Homo sapiens: one gene and its partner. The protein of the gene in region 2 purifies or fractionates together with the protein of the main gene of each other region. This does not show direct contact. Each region holds a gene or a part of one and is shown on either strand. Other genes may lie near its edges.

The links.
Region 1: the proteins of CAMK2G (region 2) and CAMK2N1 purify together in Homo sapiens (affinity purification with mass spectrometry; 2 studies listed by BioGRID and IntAct, with this or other methods). This does not show direct contact.

Annotation. Positions count from the first base shown.
Region 1 is NC_000001.11:20,483,211-20,490,221, forward strand, and holds the start of CAMK2N1 (calcium/calmodulin-dependent protein kinase II inhibitor 1), read right to left. Parts: upstream 3,001-7,011; 5' UTR 2,170-3,000; coding exon 2,004-2,169; intron 510-2,003; coding exon 439-509; 3' UTR 1-438. UniProt on the Homo sapiens protein: Potent and specific inhibitor of CaM-kinase II (CAMK2). Plays a role in the maintenance of long-term retrieval-induced memory in response to contextual fear.
Region 2 is NC_000010.11:73,867,398-73,883,660, forward strand, and holds the start of CAMK2G (calcium/calmodulin-dependent protein kinase type II subunit gamma), read right to left. Parts: upstream 7,159-16,263; 5' UTR 7,065-7,158; coding exon 7,000-7,064; exon of another isoform or gene 5,806-6,999; coding exon of another isoform or gene 5,804-5,805; intron 5,687-5,803; coding exon 5,592-5,686; intron 1-5,591.

The DNA of each region.
Region 1 (7,011 bases), on a different chromosome or scaffold from region 2:
GAACAGCCAAATCAGCGAAGAATGCCAACACCTCAAAACACCTGGTGTTGCCGCTTCATTAAGTGGTTCAAAATCCAGATCTATAATTGCGCAATATTCACCGTATATAAAAAGAAATGGATATTAATTTTGACAAATAGCTGCAACTGAGACTTCTTTTTATTTCTTTATATGTGTATATAGTGAATTTTTATTATTTTTAAAATTTTATTTATTTTTTTATTTTTATTTTTGCAGAGGAGCCCAGAGCCTTCTCCTCCTCCTCCTCCTCCTCTCGCCTCATCTGTCTCCCGGCCTGATACCAGATACAGGTTGTTGATTTCATCGTGGGTAGCAAGCTAGTAATAAATTTCAAAGTGCTTTCTCTTTTCATGCTTTTTGCCAATAACTGTTACCGCCGTTCTTATTCTCTCCCTTAACTCATTGTCTTTGGGGGAGTTAGACACCAGGAGGTGCCTTGTCGGTCATATTTTTCAGCACGTCATCAATCCTATCATCTTCAATAACAACTGCAAAAAAAGGGGGGAAAAGAGAGGTGAGCGCGCTGGGGCCTAGCCAGAGGTCTCTGACATTTCCCGTTATGCCCAGAGTGGGAGGTCGGGAGAGGAGAGGGCGAGGGAGCAGGGCTCACTGCGCGGTGAAACAGCTCCATCCTCCGTCCCTGCCAGGGGTCCCTTCCCTGCTTTCCTCTGAACCACCCACCACCCTCTATCCTCCAGCCTGCGTCCCAGCTCCATTCTGAGAAAAGGAAACAGAGGGCGCCAACCCAGCCGCTCCTGCTGCAGCCAGGGCGCGCACTGGCCCGCGTCCTCCCCGCACCAGGCGCACTAATTTAGACAGAAATGTCTGGAGCTGGGATAGGAGAGGGAGCCAAAGTCTTTGGGTCTCGGGACCCCAGGTAAGTCCCGAGCGCAGCTCCGGTGGGCAAGGCTAGGTGCGGAGATGAGCGGAACCAGGAGGGGACGCCAAAACCGGTTCCCACGACGCGCAGCGGGTGGGGGTTAGGGCCTGGCCTGGGCGGGCGCCCCCTCCTGCGCGCCCTCTCCCAGCCGCTGGCCGACTGACTCGGCCGCCCCGCGCTCCCCGCTGCCGCAGAGGTCAGAGCCTCCCTTCGCTGCCTGCCAGGGACACATGCCGTAACCTCGGCCTCTCTTACCGTCTCGACTTAGCCTCGCCTTTCTCAGTCCCTCCATCGTCCCTCGGCGCGACGGCCGGCAGCCGATCGAGGTCTCTGTCTCTCCCTGTCTAAGGTGTCGGTCGCCCTTATTGTTTCGGCGGCTTCTGCGTCCTCCCCAAACGCGCGTCCTCGGCTCTGTCTCTCCCGCTTCAGCTCCCCTCTCGGGAGCTTTGTCTCGGTCTCTGCCACCCTCGGTCTCCCGCGTACCCCCTCCCCTCCATCCCTGCGTCTCAGTCTCTCTCTGCAGCCGTCGGTCCCCCTCATTGTCCCCGCGTCTCTGGAGCTCCTCTCGGAGCCTCTCTGCGTCTCCGCCTCTCTGGGGCTTTTCCAGCTCTCGCGCGGATCGCCCAGGCCTGGCAAACCCCCTCCCAAGCCAAGTAACAATGAAAAGCCCGTGCGACCCGAACACCCTAGCCTTCCCCGCAGGAATGGGATCCTCCCCACGCAGGTCCCCACGCCGTCCCCTGGGGGTCCCTGGGACCCCCTCCCCACAGGGTTATGGAGCGAGTGCAGCTGTGACTACACTGCGCAAAAGGCGGGGGTGGGGGGCGCAAATCAAAAAGCAAACTTTGCCGCGCGGGTGGAGACCCCCAGCTGCTGCTAGAAGCCGCCACGCCCCCAGGGTGACCCAGCCGGGGATCCGGCTTAGGGGGACGCGTTCCTGCGACCCGCTTCAGCCGGACCCGCAGTGCGGGATCCCCCAATTCTGCAAGAAGGGATTCCGTCAGGTCTGAACGGGCTCCAGCGGGTGGGAGACCTCCGCAACCCTTGTTCAGGCCGCGGCGCGGGAAAAAGGGGGTGTCAGACAAGGGGGCCGCGAACTCACCCCGCTTGCTCCGGCCGATCTGGCCCAGCTTGGGCGGCCGCTTGTTCTGCCCGGCGCCGAAGAAGTTGTTGGTGTCCTGCAGGCGGCAGGAGAAGATCTGGCCCACGTCGCCGCCGTCGCCGTAGGGGCTCAGCTTCTCGTCGCCGTAGGGCAGCACCTCCGACATGGTCGCGTCCGGGGGCTCCGCCGCGGCGCCTCCTCCGCCCGCGTCCCCGCCCGCGGCGGACAGGGTCAGCGGCGCTGGGGCCGGGGGCGGCCGGCCGGGGACGGCCCGCGGGCTGCTGCGGCGGTGGCGCCGGCGAGAGGCCGGGGGACGCCGCTAGGGCAAGAGCGCGGCACTCGCGCGAGCGGCCCGGAGAGCGCCCGCGGCTGCGCTGCGCTGCGCTCCGGCTCCGCGCGCGAGTGGCTGCTGCTCCGCCAGAGGCGAGCAGGACTCACATCCTCGGCGCGCTGGGGCTCTGGGCGGGGGCCGGGCCGGGCGGGGCCGCGAGCCGGGAGGGAGGAGACGTCCCTGCGAGCCCGGAGGGCGCGGGACCGAGGAGGGCGCACCCCGGGAGCCGGGCGGGCCGGTCCTGCGGCGAGTGCGGGCGGCGGCGCCGGTTCGGGGAGGCAGACTGGGAGCTGCGAGCGGCGGGGCTGCGAGGGGCGGAGGGGGAGGGGAGGGAGAGAGGAGGGAGGGCACCGGGGAGGAAACCCGGAGGGAGGGTGGGGGAGAGAAACCGAGAGGGAGACGGGGCTGAAAAACAGGGACTGAAAGACAGGGAGGCAGGGGAGACGGTGGAAGGAGACAGAGGAGAGGGGGAGAGGAAGGAGAGGAGGAGAAAGAAGAAAAGGTGGGGTGGGGGACGAGCTAGAACGGAGAGACAGGGGAAAGATGAGAGGAGGAGGGAAAGGATCGGGAGGGAGAGGAAGAGGGTCGGAGAGGGAAGGAAGGGAGAAAAACAGAGGGGGGAGAGGGAGGCAGGGATAGAGGAGGCAGCGAGCTGCGAGGAGAAATGCCGGCCGCGGCGCCGAGGCGAGGCGCGGGGAGGAGGGCGGGAGGAGGCGGGGAGGAGGGGACCCGCGGGCCTCGGGGAGAGATCCCTGCGAGCGGAGCGACGTCACGGGGCCGCGCCGGCCGGCCCGGGCTGCCGCTAGCTTCCTGCCCCCGCCCCCAGCCCCCGCCGTCCCGCTCACGGGTGTTTACGGGGCCCGGAGCTGGTGCGCGCCCGCCCCGCAGCCGGCTTTGCCTCCCGAGGGGACCTCGGGGGGAGTGGGGGTTCCGGGAGCTGGAGAGGGAGCGGACAGACGACGCACACGCGGGGAAGGGCGGAAGCATGCTGACCCCCCTGGGGGGCAGATGCTGCGGGGCAAAGATCGGAGGGCTCCAGGGCGACCCGCGGACATAGCCTCCCCCGCCATCTGCAAACCGGGGAGCCCTTCCTCCCCACCACACTTGCTCCCCAATTCAGACCCTGAGGGCCCAGCCACTGGGGCCTCACACTCTCCTCCCGCCCCGGCTCAGTCCGACCTGGAAGGCCTCACTCCCCCACGCCCCCGCCCAACTGCGCTGGACTCCGGCTCCCGCAGGGCCTCCAGGAGGGGGAGGGGGAGAGGGAAGGGGCAGCCCCGCCTCCCGCAGGAGAAGGGAGCGCCTCATTACGCCGGGCTCGCCCGGGATGCCTGGCTCCCGGCGTCCGCTGCCTCCGCTGGGGACGTCCCGGGTCTGCCGCCCTCTGCCCTCGGGGGTCTCCCTTCCAGCAACAGCCGTGCGCCCTGTGGAGAGACTATGGCCTCTGAGAGGAGGAGCGGGCTCCTCGATGCCGGGAGGGAGACTGGGGCAGCCCCAGAGGCCTGGGAGGCGCATCTGCCAAGCAGATGGTAACTCCGAGGGGGCAAGGTGCATGAGGAGCGCTCATTATCCTCGCCGGAGCCAACAGCACCTGCCCTCCGCTGGAGACCGTCTTTGCTTAGTAGAGCCGGCCTGACCACAGGGAGGGGCAACCACCCCAAGGTCATGCCAGCTGCTGGAGGCAGGGCTAGGAAACACATCCAGGTGGCCCAGGTGAGTCTCACCTGGCTCATCCTGCTGCCCTGCAAGGGGTCCCATCAACAGTGAAAGGAGCTCTCCCCTCCTATCTAGAACTCTGGCGGGTGGGAGCTGGAGGCAGAAGGGGAAGGTTTTTTCCTGGTATAACATCTGGTGGAGGGGGGAGTCAGTCCAGCCCCCTCTCCAAACGGTGTAAAAGGATTGGCTGGCCTCGGGAAGCCAGAATCCATGGGGGGAGGAGGAAGGGAGCAGAGAAAAGGGAGACTGAAGCAATGTGGCAGGTGGAATAAGCATGTCCCTTGGATTTAGGTCTGGGTTTGAATCCCAACCCCGTGGTTTGCTGACTGTGTGACCCTGGGTGGGTCATCTCTCCTCTCTGAGCTTCCATGGTCTCAGCTGTCAAATGGGTATATGGCTAGCCAGTACCTGTGTACCCTGCAGGACAGTTATGAAAACAAAAATAAAATCAGGCTCTGATGCCTGGCTGAGAGTGGATGTGCAATAGACATTTGAGAGATGACTTAATGAGTGAGAAAGAACGGTAGCACTTCATTTGTTTCCATTTCAGGACCACATGAGCTGGGAGAATCCTTAGAGATGAGCTGGGCCTATCCCTCATTTCCATATGGGGAAACAGAAGTCCAGAGGGCCAGGGGCTAGCCCCAAATCCCACAGTTTGTCGATGGCAGAAGCCTCAGGTCCCCAGACTGACCTTGTTCCTCTCCACAAGCCACCTGGCTCATTCATTAGGACTTTCCCAAGTGCCTGCTTTGAGGTTAGTGCCAAAGCCAAGTGCTAAGAGAGAAAACAAGAGCGTAACAAGCAGGATGATAAAGTTCCAAGAAGCGCTGACATTTGTCCCCTTTCTTATTTTCCTCCAACGCATTTTCACATCTATTATTGACCTTGCTTCTCAAAATAAATACCTTTTGAGGTAGAAAGAGGAGACGTTGCATCCCTGTTTAACTGACATAGCAGAAAGAGGATAAGTGACTTGCCCAAGGTCACAGCCTAGTGATAGAGCCAGGAGAAGCCACTGTGGCCAGCCCTGATTCCGTAGGGGACTCCCTGCAGTGGTGACAGCATACAGGGCTGGGACCACCCCATTCATCTCACATCCGCCTGGCTCCTTCCTTGCTGCTGAGAGGCACAAAGCAATTTACACGCTGAGCACCTACGACAGTCCCACTGCACAGAAGGTAAGCAGAAAGACCCAGCGAGGACTGACGAATCCCTGCACACACAGCAAGTGAGAGCAAGAAGAGAAGTCCAATTTCCACCCCATCTGTTTTTATGTTTACCTTGCCTTGTTCCAAATAAGGTTAAAGGTGACAGCATCCCATGTTCCCAACTCAGTACCCACCCCCTTCAGGAAGCACACGCGCCTCCCAGCACATGGTGCTTGACAGCTTGAAAAGCATCTCCATGACTATTCGCTCATTAATCGCTAAGCTTCGGAAGTGGAGGGGACTGGGACTGTCAGGCCCATTTCACAGACAAGGTGCCTGAAGGTGGAGTGATGTCCCCAGGGTCACACAGAAGTTCTGCAAGGGCAAATTGCGAATCAGTATGGCTTTCCTCCACCTCCATTCCTCCCACTTGTCTTTATCACAAAGGCCTCACTCAGTCCTCCGTTCCTTCCAGCATTTGGTGGGGGCATCTCTTCATCTTGAAGTCAACACATGTGCTGGGACTCCATTCCTACCTGTTTACACTCATTCCCCAAAGCCAAGAGGCTGGCTCTGAACCAGAGGCCCAGAGCTGTGTTGAGGAGGCCAGACCCAGGTGAAGGAACCTAATAAGGCAGGAATGAAGGCTTCCCTCCCCACCTCCCCACAAGGAAGCCTGGCAGTACATGGTCTGGGGCAGTAGTCTAGGATGAAGAGCCCACTGGGGCAGTCAAGTTCAAAGCCCTGGTTGGGCGTGGTGGCTCACACCTATAATCCCAGTACTTTGGGAGGCTGAGGCAGTCGGATTGCTTGAGTGTAGGAGTTGTAGACCAGCCTGGGCAATATAGTGAGACCCTCATCTCTACAAAAAATTTAAAAAGGAATCGGGCATGGTGGGGCACACTTGTGATCCCAGCTACTCGGGAGGCTGATCAGGGAGGATTGTTTGAGCCAGGGAAATTGAAGCTGCAGTGAGCCATGATTGCACCACTGCATTCCAGCATGGACAACAGAGCGAGACGCCATCTCAAAAAAAAAAGTTCAAAGCCCTGCTCGGTCATTTCCTAGGTCTGTGATCCTTTCACTCTCTGTGCCTAAGTTTTTTCATCTGTCAAATTGGCATAAGAATCATTATTACTTGGTGGTTTATTGTGGGGAGGAGATCATACACACACCACGCCTAGCACAGAATCAGTCCTCAATAAAAGTGGTTGTTATTATTTGCTATAGGCTTTCTTTGTGGCTTTGAAAAAGCTGCCTCTGACTCTACATCATCCAATGGGAAACCTGGAGAAGATCACATCTTTTCAGCGGCAAAACCAGTTTTCCCAAATCCAAAGTAGATAAAACCTGCTTGAAGCAAAGGTGGGGGTCCTAGGGCCTTACTCCAGCTTCCCCCTGAAACTTCATCTGAAACTCCTTCACCAAACCCCAGGACTCTAGAAATAAGAACCACAGGACCAGGCCATCTCCATGGACCCTTTCAGCACAGACATTCCAGGATCAAAAATAAGTATTTGATAGCCCAGACTGTGCACCGAGCCCCACACTCAAGCTGGTGGGATAAGAAAGGGGAAGGTCAGCCCCAGCAGGGCCCAGCACAGAAGGGAGGCTCAGCACACATCAGTTTCCCCTTGATCTCGTCTCCTCCCTCCAATCCAGATGGGGAAACTGAGGCACAGGCAGCGGCATCAGACAGTGATGGCAAGACGTAGAGAAGAACGTGGCTGTGGGACAGCCCAGCCCAGGCCTCTGTGCCTGCCTTCTGGGCTCGGTTCCTTCACCTGGGCATTGGATGGCAGGCCAAGCC
Region 2 (16,263 bases):
ATGCCCCCCGGCAGGGCTCCCGGTGCCTGCAGCCTTTGCCCACTGTTTTGGTGACATTTCCTTCATGGTAACCAGCCCCAAGTAAAACATCCCAGGAAGCAGCCCCTAAAAATAGCTCCTCCCAGGGCAGCAGCAAGCAGGGGGGAAGGGAAAGAAAGGGAGGAGAAAAGAGGGGAGCAGATGGGAAGCTGCGGCTGCTGCTGATAGGGCCCAGGAAGCGGAGATGGTGTTGGGGAGGAGTGGCTGGAAATCTCCCCACCGCACAGCCCAGAGAGGTGGGTACAGACGGGAATGGGGCCTCAGCCAGCAACGAGGAGGGATTTGCTCCACCAGGCTTGGAGCTTGGGGCCTAGATGGAGAGGTGTGAGGTGATATGCCAAGATTCATCACAGGAACAAAGTATCCAGAACCTGTGTTTTAAAGAAAGGCGCCAAGGAGTGGGTGGAGGCCACACGGCCTGAGGACGCTGGGTCTGAGCCCTGGCAAAGTCATGGGCACCTGCAGCACAAAACCAAAAAAGAAAAAAAAGACCCCAGACAAAGCTTTTGTGCTTTGATTTCCCCAGCGGTCCTGCGGCAGATCTGTCTGGCCATGGGTAGGTGACAAAGGGGCTCTGCAGAGAGGCATTCAAGAGGTGCAAAGTGCCCATCTCCTCCTGTCACCACCCTTTTGGCACCCATGGGATCAGGCCCTTGTTGGTCTGCCAAAGCTGTTCAGAGAGCAGCAAGCATACAGATGGGAGCAGGAATGGTCACACCCAGCCTCCCCTTCCCTATCTCCAGTCTCAGCAGAGAATGGGGTCAGCCACTCACCTCTAGGGTTTCAGCACAGCTTCGAACAAGGGTATGGTGACAAGGGACCAGAGGAAGCAGCAGGAAGAAGGCAGGGGCCTCCCTGACAGGACAGGGCAACCTTCCCACCTCCATCCCCACACCATGATGCAGCACCCCAAGTCACTCTAGGAAGACAGGTGGGAGGGGAGGGGGACAGGCCAGTGTTGTGTGTGCTAAGGCCCACAGCTCAACGTGACCGCGTGACAAAAGCCGCCTGGCAGAAGCCTTTGCACAGAGGGACCTGCAGTCGGCTTCCATCCCTTCAGGAGAGAAAGTAGAGGCGCTCCATCACTGATATGCAGGATGCCCATTTCTCTGTTTACAGAAATTGGCCTGTTTTATCCTCAGGAGGAAAGCATGGTTTCGCACACAGCCTCCTTAAATGCTTCCTCGAGGCCTGTGTTCCAGTGCTGTGTGGATTTCTCTTCCTTCTCCCACTCCCTGCATTACTGCTTCCCCCTCCCTTCTCTTTCCCTCACTTCACCCAGATCCTTAACAGGAAAGTCTCACTTGGAGATACCACAGGGGACACAAATGTCATGGGGGCTACTCAGGCCAACACTAAGGGGGCGGGGACTCTCAGCTGGCACCATCCAGGGGATCCCATTTCAGTCCCCAGGGCCAGCTGGACCCAGAAAGGGACAGCCTTTACCCTTCTGGTGGCCAACATGCCACAACCCGAGCCACCCAGCTTGCCGCAGCCTCAGACACAGACACCCCAATCCCGAGGCCCAGAACGAGGCCCCTAATCACAGAACAGCCCATGTGCACAGATGGCCACATAGTGGCAGACACACAATCTGGAGAAGGATGGGCCAAGGTGTGTCTGTTGAATTCCAGAGGGCATGGCAAGAGCAACTGTTGTTGCAGATTTTAGGTGGCATCTCTTAAAGAGTGGCTCATGCCTCACCTGCATGAAATTCACTGGAGCATGTGTTAAAAATGCAGATTCTGCAGCTCCACCCTAGACCTCCTAAAGCAGAATCTCTGTGGCTAAAGCCCAGAAGTCTGTATTTTTTAAACTAGTACTCAGGGTGATCCTTACGCACACTAAAATTGAAAATCACTACCTGGAAGAGATCCCAACAGTGGCCCTATAGTGCCATTTAGTGACAGGGAAGGAGGAATCATCAGCTAAATGTCTGCCTACATCTCCCACTCTGCCTTATGCCCCAAGCACAGGTCTTTATCCTCATCTGTCCTCTCTTCCAGCAGCCGTATCAGGTCTGCAGCTTGGCTCCCTGGATCAGAAAGGGAGGACCCAAGTCTGTAGCAGGGTACAAGGGCTCTGGCAACTTGACTCTGAGTTTCCTAGGAGCCAAAGCCAAAAGGCAACCATGATTGGTTACATAGTCCTCTTGACCCATTCATTTAATGTGTATGTGGCTGGCATACGTCAGGCACTTCGCTAGGGCCTGCCCATGCAGAAGTATAGAAACACATAAGGACCCTTCCCTCACCTCTCAGGTCCTCACAAAGAGGAAAGCTTTTGCTTACATTTAGCTTCAAAAGAAATTTCTTCACACGGAATGTACAGATTAAATAAATATGTTAAAGTATTATAACAGATTTCAAAACACTGTTTCCGGTAGCATCTCTTAGTAAGGCCAAGGGCATTACCCCAGTATCTATCTTGGTAAAAGCAACTGGAATCCAGATAAATGGTACATATACAGAAGTTTCTTGTGATGCTGATTGTTTTAGGGATAAATCCTAAACGACGTAGAAGAAAGGACCATTTGCCCTTCAACTGTAGTAATATGGGGGAAATGCTTTGGATATAAGCAAAGAGAGCAGGATATAAAATGTTATGCTCCACGAGGTGAAAATCTGTATGCATATGAATAAAGATAAGAAGGGAATATGAAGATTTAAAAATAAAAAAAGACATAAGGGCTCAGGCTCCTTGAGGGGGGTGCTCTTAAATCTTAAAATAACGACTTATCATTGCCATCACCTGGCCCACTAGCTCCTGCATCCAAGCCTATTTTAAATGCCTCCTTCGGCCTAGTGGAGCTAAGCTTGGAACCATGGGCTCCCTTAAGAGCCCAGCTCCACTCCTATCACGGTTCTGAAGCAAACGGAGTGACGTTATGTGACTTTCAGTGACTTTATGTAGACAGGCCCGCAGACAAAGACAGTGCTCAACGCATATCCGCATGAACTCCCCACCTTGCAACCTAGCCGCCAATGTGGGCCTCTGAGGCCACAGTGACAAGACACAACAGCCCAAAAGAAGGCTTCCTGTCTCGATTGGACCCCCCCAGAAGAACAGGTGATCCCTCTCCCTGACTCCTAGCCACCTCACCAGGGATGCCAAGGAGAAACAGCTCTATACCCTCTTTTTATCTTTTCAGTTTGTAGCCCAGAGAATCACAAACAAGAAAGACAGGAGGCAGGAAGACCCAGTGAACACAGCAAGCCCCTTCAGACCTTCACAGATGACCCTGGTGGGCCCACGACATTCCCAGACACAGAAATCCAACACCTGCGGAGACCTAGGCAGACAGCGATGAGTGAAACCCAGCTCCAGTGGCTGCACCTTTATAAAATATATAGTGTAAACTGAGAGTCTGCAGGGAAGCCATGGCCCTCACTCCCTAACCCCATGGGAACCAGCCCATGGCTACCCTGGCCCAGATCTCTCCAGGAGTTCACATCTCCCATGCCCACACCTATAGTCCAGCCCCACCTTGTTCCCTCCATCTCCAAGACAGCCCCTTTCCACTTTCCCACCTCCACACAGTACTGGCTGGCACTTACACATTCTGACCCCTCTGGCTGGCATCTGTGCCTATCATCTGTGCCTCTGTCCCAAAGTCAACCTGGCACATGAGGCCACACAACAGAGCCCAGTCTTGGCATATCCATCTTGGGAGAGGGGGAGTTGCTGTCTGAAGCATATACTTTTACACAAGAATCCTCTTCTTGAGGGGAAAAAAAAAAAAATCAACGAGAAATCAAGTCTCATCCAGTTTGGCCAGGGAAAGATATCCATTGGGAAAGATGGGACAAGGTTAAAAGGAGGTGAGGAAGGGAAAGGGAGGCTATCACACAGGTCATGGAAATTTACGCAGGTAGGGAAGGAGTAGGAAATGAAAGCCCCAGTCAGGCAGCTGCAGGAAGTCACCACATCACCTATCCTCACATCCCAGAATTCGGCTCCCAGCCATCTCTCCTTCTCTTACCCATGGGTCAGAGGACACTGGTGAGATGAAGAGAGCAAAGCATTGCATCATCAACTGGAGACACCAGATGCCAGCCCTGTTTCTGATGCACCAGGGCTCTGCTGTGTGGGCAAGAGAGGTATCCAGCCTCAAGCCATTGTTCCTGCCTGCACCTTCCATCCTTGGCCAGAGGATGTCTGCCAGAGAGCCCAGCCCCTGTTGTCCCCCCCACCCCCACTCCAGGGTATCTGACTGCCCACATATCTCTATGGCAACCATCCTCAGACTCAAGGTACCCAGAGAGAAAGAAAACAAACAAGTCCAACTTTATAGGCAATGTACACGAACAGCAAGAGATGGAGCTGGATGGGAGTCAGCAATTAGTGCCCTACTAGAGGGATGGAGAGAGAGTCCCCAGTCAGGGAGTGGACACGGCCCTGCTAAACAGGTCCCAGAACAACTGCCAACACGACAGAAGCCCGTGGAATTGTAGAGCTTCTCTAAGCATTTGGGACATCTATTATGTCTCTTATCCCAGAGAAACCCGTGTCATTATTGGCCAAAGCCCATGTCTTCCCCAGGGCATGTGTCCTGGCTCCTAATATATTTATGGCATCCTACTGCCCAGCCCTAATTCCTTTCTCTGAGTTTCACAACCTTTGTCCCCCAGCTGCACCCTGCAGCCCTCCGAGATCTGACCTCTGTACTCACCAGACCTGTTCCCAGAGCACTTCACACATTGCTGGGTCTACACCTATCAGATGAGGTGAGTTTGGCAAGTACCCAATAGGAAGTTCAGAGAGTGTAGGTTCAAGGTGTGAAAGACAGGCCCTGACCCTCCAAGCCTCAGGTACTTGGGAGGATCTCGCAAGTGAGGCCCCAAGGCCTTGGCCTTTATGCTCCTCAGACTCGGAGGCAGTGCAGTTCCTGCCCAAACCGGGCCTTTGGGATTTCTAGACCATGAGGCATCACCCTCCACCCAGGACAGACTACATCTGCTGCTGCACCACCAACTTTGTAATTTGATCAAAAAAGCAATCAAGTTCATCTGGCAGAATTTGTTCCTGAGAAGCCCTCGCCAGTAGCAGCCTCCCCTGATGTTTACAGATTCCCTTCCCTTGGGAGTCTGTTCTGCCGCCTGGTGGGCAGGGGAGGCTGGCTTTGTCAGAGCTGCTCACTTACTGCATTTCCATCCTAAGTCACCACTGGGGCACAGGGACCAGGAAAGGCCTGCAGTAGCCACCACTGCCCCAAAGGGAGAGGCTCCAAATGCCCCAAATTAAGAGCTCCCCATTCTGTACCACCCACTACCCCCATATCCTCCACCTCCCTGAAGACCGAACTCCCTTGAGCCTTTGGGGGCCACTGCAGCTACTTGCATCTCTTCCTTCATTCTTTTGTACCTGGGCGCTTCCAGTCCCCCATGCAACTCCTTTTCTGGCTTCAGCCTGACACAAAGTCCAACCAGTCTGAAATTCCAACTCCTCTCCAAGTGCTAAAACGCACAACCCCCAATTCCTGGGGCTTCCTCAAAAGAAACCATGGCCCCTGGAGGCACCCTCAGGAAGAGGTCAAGACAGGGAACACTCACCCCGGGCAGACAACTTCTTGGTATTGATGATTTTTGCTGCGTACTCCTGCGTGGAGGTTTTCTTCACACACCTGCGGACCACAGAGAAAGCACCCCTGGAGGGAGAAGGGGAAAAGAACTGGGACACGGAGCAGGGCAGAGTGACACAGACACACTTCAAGTCTGGGGACGATGATGCTCCCACCACCAGACCTCTAGTCACACTCACGTACATGCACACACACCGGCGCTGTGACCACCACCATCCAACATGAGGCAAAAGGACGCGGCCACCGCAGGACACTGAACAGATGTGGGTGGCGTGCCGCGCTCCCACCCCCTCATCCAGTCCCTGGGCAAGGCAACAGCCTCCACCTCAGGCTGCACATCAGGAGCGGGTGGGCGATGCTGAAAACACACACCTGCTGCATCTCAGACAGCCCTGCGGTCCCGGCCAAGAGAACCAGGGCAGAAGGGAGCAGAGAGACCCTGCCCTTCTCTCAGCAGGAACAGTTGAAGGTCGGGGAAGGAAAGATTAAAAAGAGGGTATCATCCCCTGAAAGAGAAATCTCCCTCAACCATGGGGCAAAGTGAGGCTCAAACCCCCCCACAGCCGGTTTCATCTCACTGCATCCCGGCTCAACTGACAGCAAGGGAAGAGAGGACACAGTCAGACATCAAGAACTCCCCTTCCCATGCTATTTTCCTTGACGTCCCCGTCAAACGGGAGCTCGCACTCTGAGCTCTGGAAACGTCTGGGGGGGCGGGCGGGGCGGGGGCTGCAGTGGCCGGGCTCGGCGCCGCGGGTGGGGGTGGGGGGCCGGGGCTGCTGCAGCGGCCAGCTCAGTGCGGAGGGGAGGGGGATGCTGAGGCTGCGGCGCGGCTCCCGGGACCACTGCAGGGGTGGGGGGAGGGGACGGGGGTGCCGCAGCACTGCCCAGCCGCGGGGCTGGGAGCCTGGAGCGGCACCCGCGGGGGGCGGGGCCGGGCGCCAAACAGCCCCCCCACGCCCGGGCTCCGCAGCAGAGCTAGGGCTGCAGGGCTGGGGAGGGTCCTGAGTGCGAGGCGCGTGGGACCTGGGTTCAGGGTGCGGAGTGAGCAACCGGGCAGCGTTGGGAGGTGGTCGGGAGGGGGGCGCCTGAAGGGTGCGGAGGGGCGGGGCTGGAGGGCACCCGGGAGCGGTCCGGGGTCTGCGGTGTCCGCGGCGGCGCGTGGGGAGCAGCGGCCCCGCCAGTTGCTGCAGGGCGCGGAGGGGGATGCGGGGCAGTGCGCGGGGGGCGCGGGGACCGAAGGCGGCGGGCGGGAAAGGCGGGGGTGGGGCGGCCGAGGGGGAGCCGCAGCGGCCGGTGCAGGGCCGGGGGGCGGGGCGAGAAGCCGCATAGCTCCCGGGCGGCAGGGCAGGCAGGGGACCGCGGCGGGCGGGCCGTACTTGCCAAGCTCCTCGAAGAGCTGGTAGTCGTCGGTGAAACGGGTGCAGGTGGCGGTGGTGGCCATGCTGGCGGGCGGGCGGACGCGGCGGTGCAGCCCGCGCCGACGTCGGTGCACAGTCACCGCCGCCCGGCCGAGGGAGCAAGAGGAGGAGACGGGGCTGAGCCCGGCAGCACCGCGAGACTTTACCGGGGAGAGCGAGGGAGGGAGGGACACCCCCGCGCCGCCCGCCCCGCCCCGCCCCCAGGCCCCGCCAGTCCCCCCCCCCGCCCGGCCCCCGGCCCGCCCCCGGGGAGGGGCCTCCCGCCGCCGGCCCCGCCCCGCCCCGGAGCCGCCCTCGCTGGGCCAGGCGCGCGGGGCAGCCGAGGGGAGGGGGTCCCCGCTCCGGGCCACCTGTCTGGGCAGACGGAGCTGGAAGGTTCGCGACTTATGGGCTTGTCCCGGGGCGGACCCCGCGCGGGCTCGGGAACGTGCATGCGAGGGTGCATGTGTTAGGAGTGTAGGAGTCTGGACCACTGACCTCTCTGGACGGGTCCTACACGCGGGTCCCGAGCCCCCAACCGGGCTCCTAGCACGTGGGGAGAGAGCCAAGGTCAAGGAGCCTGTGCCAGGCTGCACGCCCGGGAGGCGCCCCCAGCCTGCGCAGAGCCAGCTGCCAGCCGCCTTCCCTCTGGGAGCTGACAGTCTAGACTTGCGCAAGCACCAGGGCCATTATTAGAAAGAAACCCTTCAGGCGCGGGTTGATCAGGGAGACCAGGCCAGGGGCAAGGATACAGGTAGGACTCTGCCTTCCTGCACCATAACTGCAGAGATGAAAGAGTATTCTCTATCCGGCCAGAAATGAAAGGGGTGAAGTAGGAAGACTTGAAAAGGCTTTGTGCAGTGGGGGCTAGAAGAGAAAGTGGAAGAAAGGGGAAATCCCCATTTTCTTGCAAGGCACCCTCGTACTTTTATTTTCTGGCACCTACCACATTTTGTAGTGATGCATTGACTGGTATAAGGGGCAGTAGAGCTATCTCATAGCTGTCTAAGCGTGAACTTGCATCAAACTGCCTGGATTGGATTTCTAGGCAACTCACTGATCAGCTCTGTGACCTGGGGTAAGTCACTGAATCTTTTTTTTGAGACGGAGTCTTGCGCTGTTGCCCGGGCTGGAGTGCAGTGGTGCGATCTTGGCTCACTGCAGCCTCCACCTCCTGGGTTCAAGCGATTCTCCTGCCTCAGCCTCCCGAGTAGCTGGGATTATGGGCGCGCGCCACCACGCTCGGCTAATTTTTTTGTATTTTTAGTACAGACGGGGCTTCATTATGTTGTAGTAATGAAGTATGTATGTAGTACATACATGAAGTAATGAAGTATGTATGTAGTACAGAGGTGGCTTCATGAGCCACCTCGCCCGGCTGGGAACAATAATATTACCTACCTCATAGGCCTGTCAGCATTAAATGGTCTAAGGCACTTAGAATAGTACTTGGTGCCTAATTAGAACTACATTTGCTGGGCCGGGCGTGGTGGCTCATACCTGTAATCCCAGCACTTTGGGAGGCTGAGGCGGGTGGATCATGAGGTCAGGAGTTCGAGACCAGCCTGGCCAACATGGTGAAATCCTGTCTCTACTAAAAATACAAAAACTAGCTTCCCGCTGAATTGTAGGCTCCAATAAAGCGGGGCCTCTGCACCTTTTGTTCACCATTGTACACTCAGCCCCTGACCCTCAGTAAATATTTGTGGGATGGCAGAGGGAGATACCATCCCTTCTCCTGTCCCCACCATCACAAGTTGGTGGGACAGAGGCACATAACTGTCTTGATGGGGGACAAACAGGCTGGGCAGGTTCCTGACCTGCCTGGGCAGCTGTCCCCTGAGGCTGAGGCCAGCCCCAACTGGGCAGGGTGGAGCTCAGCCAGAGGCTGCCACTCAGTCTTGATTACAGCAGGACGCCCACTGGGAGTCGGGTCTCCCTCGCCAGCAGGCTCGCTCTGCCAGAGGAGGGGGCTGAGAGGTGTCCCAGCCTCCCAAGCTGCCTCCCTGAGGGGTGGGTGGGGCAGAGCTCTCCAGGAGTGCTCCCCTCCTGTCCTGACCCAACAGCCCTGAGAGCTGCTTTGGGAACCAGACTGCCCAGTAGGGGTGATTAGGGAATGGGAGGGCATGAAGCCCTAAAGGAAAAGCATTAGCAGTTCTCTTGGGAGAAGGGTAGAGAGGGCCAAGGGAAAGGGTAGCAGTGCCAGAGCACCATGCCCTACCCCTCCCCAGGGCAACAGGAGGTAAAGTGGAGAGTAAGGCCACTTCCTATCTCAAAGCACCTGGGTGAGAGCCAGGTCCCAAGTCCCAGTGTGGGGTAGGGCAATGAGATTGCATACATGGGGATGCCAGTAAGTGTTGAGTTTCTGTCATCCATCTCCAAAGCAGAAGCAACTTTGAATATCAGTTGATCATCAATGTGCCCTTCCTAAGTGCTCAAGGCAACTTGCTTCCTGACCTCCAGGCTGATACTTGAAACTTTCTATTCATGAATGGAAGGTGGAGTGGAGGAGACCCTGAGAGGTCAGAACAAGCACAGAGGAGGGCTGCCATGGAGTCCCCTAGGAGTATCCTGGGGCAAATGTAAAACAGGACTACAACCCTGACCAGTCTCATGTGCCTGCTGTGAGAGGAACATCATCCCGACTGAGGGGAGGGTTCAACACTAGGTGTTTTGGGGTAACCACGTAAAGCATTTTGCATTGTGTCTCTAGGTAAAAGGAAGAGTGATGAGAAAAATATTGGAGTGAAGCCTCAGGGGTGACTCATAGTACTATATAAGTGGAGCTAGCTGCCTTTCAACAAATATGACTCCCTACCATAGGTTTGTCACTGCCTTTTACTTTTTGAAACATTCAAATAAAGTAGAAAATTAGAATTCACACAATTAGAAGAAAACTCAATCCATCGTCTTTTTTTTTTAACCCCTCAGACAGGGTCTCGCTCTGTCCCCCAGGCTGGAGTACAGTGGTGCTGTCACGGCTCACTGCAGCTTCACCCTCCCAAGTAGCTAGGACTACAGGCATGTGCCACCACACTCAGCTAGTTTTACATTTTTTTATAGAGATGAGGTCTCACAATTTTGACCAGGCTGGTCTCAAACTCGTAGACTCAAGCAATCATCCTGTCTTGGCCTCCAAAAGTGCTAGGATTACAGGCATGAGCCACCTTGTCCAGCCTCCTTTTTCCTTTGTATCTCTACTTCACTTTTCCCTTCCTCCCTCACTACTTCTCTCAACAGCGCAGCCTCTGACGCATCCACGGTGGTGGTTTGGAGCCTATAGACACTTCTGTGTGCACACACAAACACACACCCTCGCACATACACCCTCCTCTATCCCCACTGCTGTAGCGCCCACACAACCTCCAGCTACCCTACAGCAATTAGAGGGAAGATACACACAAATAATAACAAGCTCACCAGCTCCCTCCACTTCAGTGTCTATGGCAACCTCCTGGGGTCTTTGGGCTGGGTTGCTCTGGTTGCAGCCAGTCCCCTGGGCAGCACCAGCACTCAGGCTGTGCTCAGAGCTCAGAGAACAGGGAATGACAAAGATATCAGTACCCTGATAAGCACCAGAGGCACCCCACTGGGTGGGACCATCTTTCTCTTTGAAGCCTGCAAAGTCTCACGTCCATGAGGGGTTTTCAATCCATATTCTAAGCAGAATCCATGGGGTTACGAGGCCAGGCCGCAACAGCTAGTCAACATATATATATTGACGTTCCACATAAGATTTGGTTGCAGTTAAGAGTCCCTGACTAAAAAGAAGTTTGGAACCCATTGGACTTCTGGGTCCTTTCCAACTCTGAGATTCTATGATTAGTTTTGGAGAATTAGGAGTGATGAGATCATGACCTCTCTCCAAGGAACTCTGAGAGAATTATTAATGGTGCGGCATTTAAAACTGGAGAGAAGATGTGATCATGGAGATAGGAAAGAGTGAGAAAGCAAATACAACATTTGTTTTGTTTTGAGACAGTGTCTCACTCTGTCACCCAGGCTGTGGTGCAGTGGTGTGATCCTAACTTACTGCAGCCTCTAACTCCTGGGCTCAAGCCATTCTCCTGCCTCAGCCTCCTGAATGGCTGGGACTATAGGTCCATGCCACTATACCGAGCTTAATTAAATTTTTTTTGGTAGAAATGAGGGTCTTGCTATGTTGCCCAGGCTGGTCTTGAACTCCTGGCCTCAGGCTGTCCTCCTGCTTTGGCCTCTCAAAGTGCTGTGATTACAGGCATGAGCCACTGTAAACACAGTATTTAAATAAGCAATCCTCACACTGGGAGGGAGTGAAGGATGCCCCTCTTTGCCCTGGAAGGTACATCAGAAAAAGCCTACCAGTGGGCTTCTCCAAATCACTACTTTTTCCCATCCTTCCTGAGTCTAAAAGCTGGAAAAAAAAAAAAAAAAAAAGACTGAAACCACAGATTATGTCAATGAGTGCAGCATTTTTTTTTTTCTTTTCTTTTTTTTTTTAAGATAAAGTCTCACCATGTCGCCTAGACTGTTCAGTGGCATGATCCTAGCTCACTGCAGCTTCTATCTCCTGGGCTCAAGTGATCCTCCCACCTCAGTCTCCTGAGTAGCTGGGACTACAGGCACAAGCCACCATGTCCTACTAATTTCTTTTTTTATTTTTAGTAGAGACGAGGTCTTGCTGTGTTGCCTGGGCTGGTCTTGAACTCCTGAACTCAAGCAGTCCTCCTGCCTCAGCCTCCCTAAGTGCTGGGGTTACAGACATGAGCCACAGCACTTGGCCTGACTGCAGTATTTCTTAGAGGAGGGGCTGAGATATTTGAGGTGAGTGGCTGAGCTCCTAAAGTTTGGGACGTAGGAGATTTTGGAATGAGAGTTTGGGGCGAGGGCTGCAGCATCTGGTGTAAGGAACTGAGGTGTCTGGAATAGAGTTTGAGGCACTAGGGATGAAGAGCTGAGCTGAGAAATTCAGGTAAGTGTAGAAATATGTAACGTGAGGAGCTGAGGGCCTGATAGGGGGGAACTTCCTTACATTTTCCAGCCAGCGGGTTAGTTCCAAAGAGCAATGTGATCCTGGCCTTCTCATCCATCAAGTCCAGGGCATGGCCCCCTCTGCCTCTTGACCCCTCTGCCATCCTCCTATAGACTGTGAGCTTCTTGAAGGCAGGGCATTGCTGATCTTTCTCTTTGTATCCCCAACACCTACCATTGAAGCCTGGCACATAGTAGGTGCTGTCATTTATGGAATGAATGAAGTATTGGGTGCAAGGGGCTGAGATATTTGCAGTGAAGAGGCAGAACCAGTGGACAAATCTGTCATCAGAGACAGTGACAGAGCTGTCATCAGAGGCACAAGGGAGGTACTGATGTGACGACAGGCGGGCGGCATGCGTCAGCGTGGACGACCTGGGCAGGAAGAGCGGCATGTGGGGCCCCCTGGTGGGCAAACGTGAGGGGCACAGGGAGGTACAGGAAGGGGAGCGTCAAAAAAAAATGACAAAGGGAGGTGTGGTGAGGATGACAAAACTCACCAGCGTAGCTAACGTCTAGAGAAAGCTTGCTACTTACAAGGCACATGCACTAAGCACTCTAAATAAGCTACTCTATTTAACCCTCACCATCACCCTGCAAGTGTGGGAGTTTTACAGAGGAGGAAACTGAAGTTTAGAAAGGTGAAGTAGCATGTCCCAGGGCAAATAGCTAACACAATTTATGGTGGAGCTGCGAGAATATGATTGAAGGGCAGTGAATAGAAAGAGATAGGGGGGTCAGTAAATTGTATGGGGAGCAATCCAGATAGGCTGACACCACCAATACCATCTAGATTGGAATCTTAAACTCAGTGTGGATTTATCTCAATCTAGTCCCAGCCTCCTGAATCCAGGCATGTACCCACAGGGGACATTTGTTCATTCATTCATTCATTCATTTATTTTACTGAGTAGCTCCTCTGTTACAGTCATTTAGGAAACAGAAGAGGAGAATCCAGCAAAACTCTGCCTCTTGTAGCTTACATCCCTGTAGGCAGGCAGTGTAACTGGAAAGAGGTCATTTTGGACTGGAGTTAGGTCCTACTACAGAGAAAGTAAAATCAAGTAATGGGGATAGAGAGTGACGGGGTAGGGAACATAGAGGGCGCCTTTAACCGAGGTGCTCAGACCTGGGGGCTCTCTGAACGCAACTTTTAAGGGAGACATTTAGGAATAACATTTAGAAATGATGATAAGGAGGTAGTTGTTTGAAGATCCAAACAAGAGCATTCCTGGTGGAAGGGGCAGTGACAAAGTCCTGAGATAAAAAATGGTCATGGTCCCAGCTACTCGGGAGGCTGAGGCCTGAGGATCACTTAAGCCTGGGAGGCAGAGGATGCAGTAAGCCGTGATCATGCCACTGCACTCCAGCCTGTACAACAAAGTGAGACCCTGTCTCAAAAAAAAAAAAAAAAAGGTCATGGCATATTTGAGGGGTGGAAAGAAGACTGGTGTGGCCAGAGTGGGCCAGGGGGCAGCAGGAGGAGAATAGGGCCCAGAGGTCGTAATAAACCCCACATCCTGGTACAACCACCCTGATGTTCCTTCTGTGGCCCCAAACTCTGTAACTCGCAGGGAGCCCACAAGGACAGGCTACCTCCATGCTCACAAACAAAGGAGACCTGAAATCCCAGCTCAGTGCAAGAAGACACCTTCATCAAGGACAGACATAAATCTGGGTCTGGAGCTAGAAGTGATGCTGTTCCTTGGCCCCTGGCCACCACAAAGAAGGGTGGTAGAGATGGCCACAGGATGACCTGTCTGCACTCCAGGGACTCTGGGGGTGATGCACTGGGGGTCTCTGCAGAAACAGGCAGTTTCCCCTTAGTCCATTCAAACAACTGTCTCCCTGCCCTGGGCAAGCTTTATTCTTAACCCCTCCAGCGGACAGCAACAGGCCAGAAATAGGCCCTGCCTTAAAGAGCTTTACTCACTGGGGACAAGAAGATAAACATGATAATAAAACAAGGATACAAGCCCCAAGATTAATACCACAGGCAGCCTCTGGATCTTTGCACAAGTGGCTGCCTGACTCACTCTTCCCTTCCCTCTTTGCCTGTCTGTCCTCCAGGTCTCTGCCCAAGCAGCATTTTCTCAGGGTAACTTTCCCTGGCCTCTTGATCAGATCAAATTTGTATCTTGACAGCCCCAAAACTACCACCTGCCACTTCTTCAAAGCACTCGTCCCAAGTGTATACAGGTGTTTCTATGACTACAGGCATAATGAGGGTAGGGTCTATTCCTGTTTATGTTCATCCTGGCATCCCCAGGATCTAAAGTGCCTCGGCTGTAGTAGGTACTCAATAAATGCTTGGAAAGTAAAAGCAAAGTATGATGTAAATGGGAGTAATGGAATCAGTTGGAACCATCAGAAGTGACTTAACAGAGAGGAAGGAGAGGAAGGATGTTGGTGGATAGAGGTGGAGTTGAGGTGGCAATGCCAGTGGAAAACACAGTGTTGAGGTGCTGAGGGCTTGGCAGGTGTTTGGGACATGGGGTGGTCAGGAGAAATGGAGGGGAGGGGGTGAAGAGGGGAGAAACAGGCCATAAAGCTGGGACCAGCCATGTGGAAATCGTGCCTGGCTGTGGGTGGGCTAACAGGCCAGGCAGGGACTTGCCTCAGGAAGGACCCATGTCAGGCCGGGCATGGTGGCTCACGCCTGTAATCCCAGCACTTTGGGAGGCCCAGGCAAGAGGATCACCTGAGAGGTCAGGAGTTCGAGACCAGCCTGGCCAATATGGCGAAACCCTGTCTGTACTAAAAATACAAAAATTAGCCAGGTGTGCGGGTGTTCGCCTGTAATCCCAGCTATTTGGGAGGCTGAGACAGGAGAATCACTTGAACCTGGAAGGCGGAGGTTGCAGTGGGCCAAGATCGTGCCAGTGCCCTTTAGCCTGGGTGACAGAGCGAGACTCCATCTCAAAAGAAAAAAAAAAAAAAAAAAGAAAGACCCATGTCCAACTCTCTGGACTCCAGGCAAGGTCCAGAGGCTGCTAGGTCCCAGACCTGAGCTACAAATGATCCCCTTCCAGACATTCCCACTTGAATGTCCCACTATCCACCCAAATTCAACATGATCCCCATCCAAATTAACCACATTGAGAAGCTGGATAACATGGTGGTTAAGAACACACTAGCCATGGGAGCCTGTGAGCATTTCTTTTGTTTTTTGTTTTTGAGACATGGTCTCGTTCTGTTGCCCAGGCTGGAGTGTAGTGGTGCAATCACAGCTCACTGCAGCCTAGACTTCCCAAGCTCAATCTATCCACCTACCTCGGCCTCCTGAGTAACTGGTTCTACAGGTGTGTGCCACCATACCCAGCTATTTTCTTTTTGTATTTTTTGTAGAGACGGGGTTTCACCATGTTGCCCAGGCTGGTCTCAAACTCCTGACCTCAGTGATCTGTCCGCCTTGGCCTCCCAAAGTGCTGGGATTACAGGCATGAACCACTGTGCCTGGCCTGTGTTTTATGACTTGTCTGCGCCTCAGTTTTCTTACTGGCAAAATAGGAATAGTAGTACTCACTTCATAGACTTTTTTTTTTAATTAGCATCTAATTTATTTTCACTGGCAAAAAAATGTATATATTTATCATATACAACATGTTGTTTTGAAATATGTATACATTATGGAATGGCTAAATGCAGCTGATTAACATATGCATACCTCACATACTGTTTTTTGTATTGAGAACACTTTAGAATCGACTTTCTTAGTTATTTTCAAGAATACAGTACATTGTTATTAACTATAGTCACCATGCTAACTTATTTTTTTTTGAGACAAGGTCTCGCTCTGTCGCCCAGGCTGGGGTGCAGCAGCATGATCCTGGCTCACTGCAACCTCTGCCTCCCATGCTTAAGTTGGTATTACAGGTACGTGCCACCAGACTCAGCTAATTTTTATTTATTTATTTATTTATTTATTTATTTATTTATTTATTTATTGTAATTTTAGTGGAGACAGAGTTTTGCCATGTTGGCCAGGCTGGTCTCAAACTCCTGACCTCAAGTGATCCACCCACCCCAGCCTCCCAAAGTGCTGGGATTACAGGCCACTGCACCCAGCCAATCACTGTGCTGTATCTCCTGATAGATCTCTTGAACTTATTCCTCCTATCTATTGATAGGATTTTATGAGGAATAAATTATCAGTATAAGTGAAGGGCAAAACAGTGCCTGGAATAGTCAGGGCTCAATAAATATTAGCCATTGTAACTATACCCCTTGCCA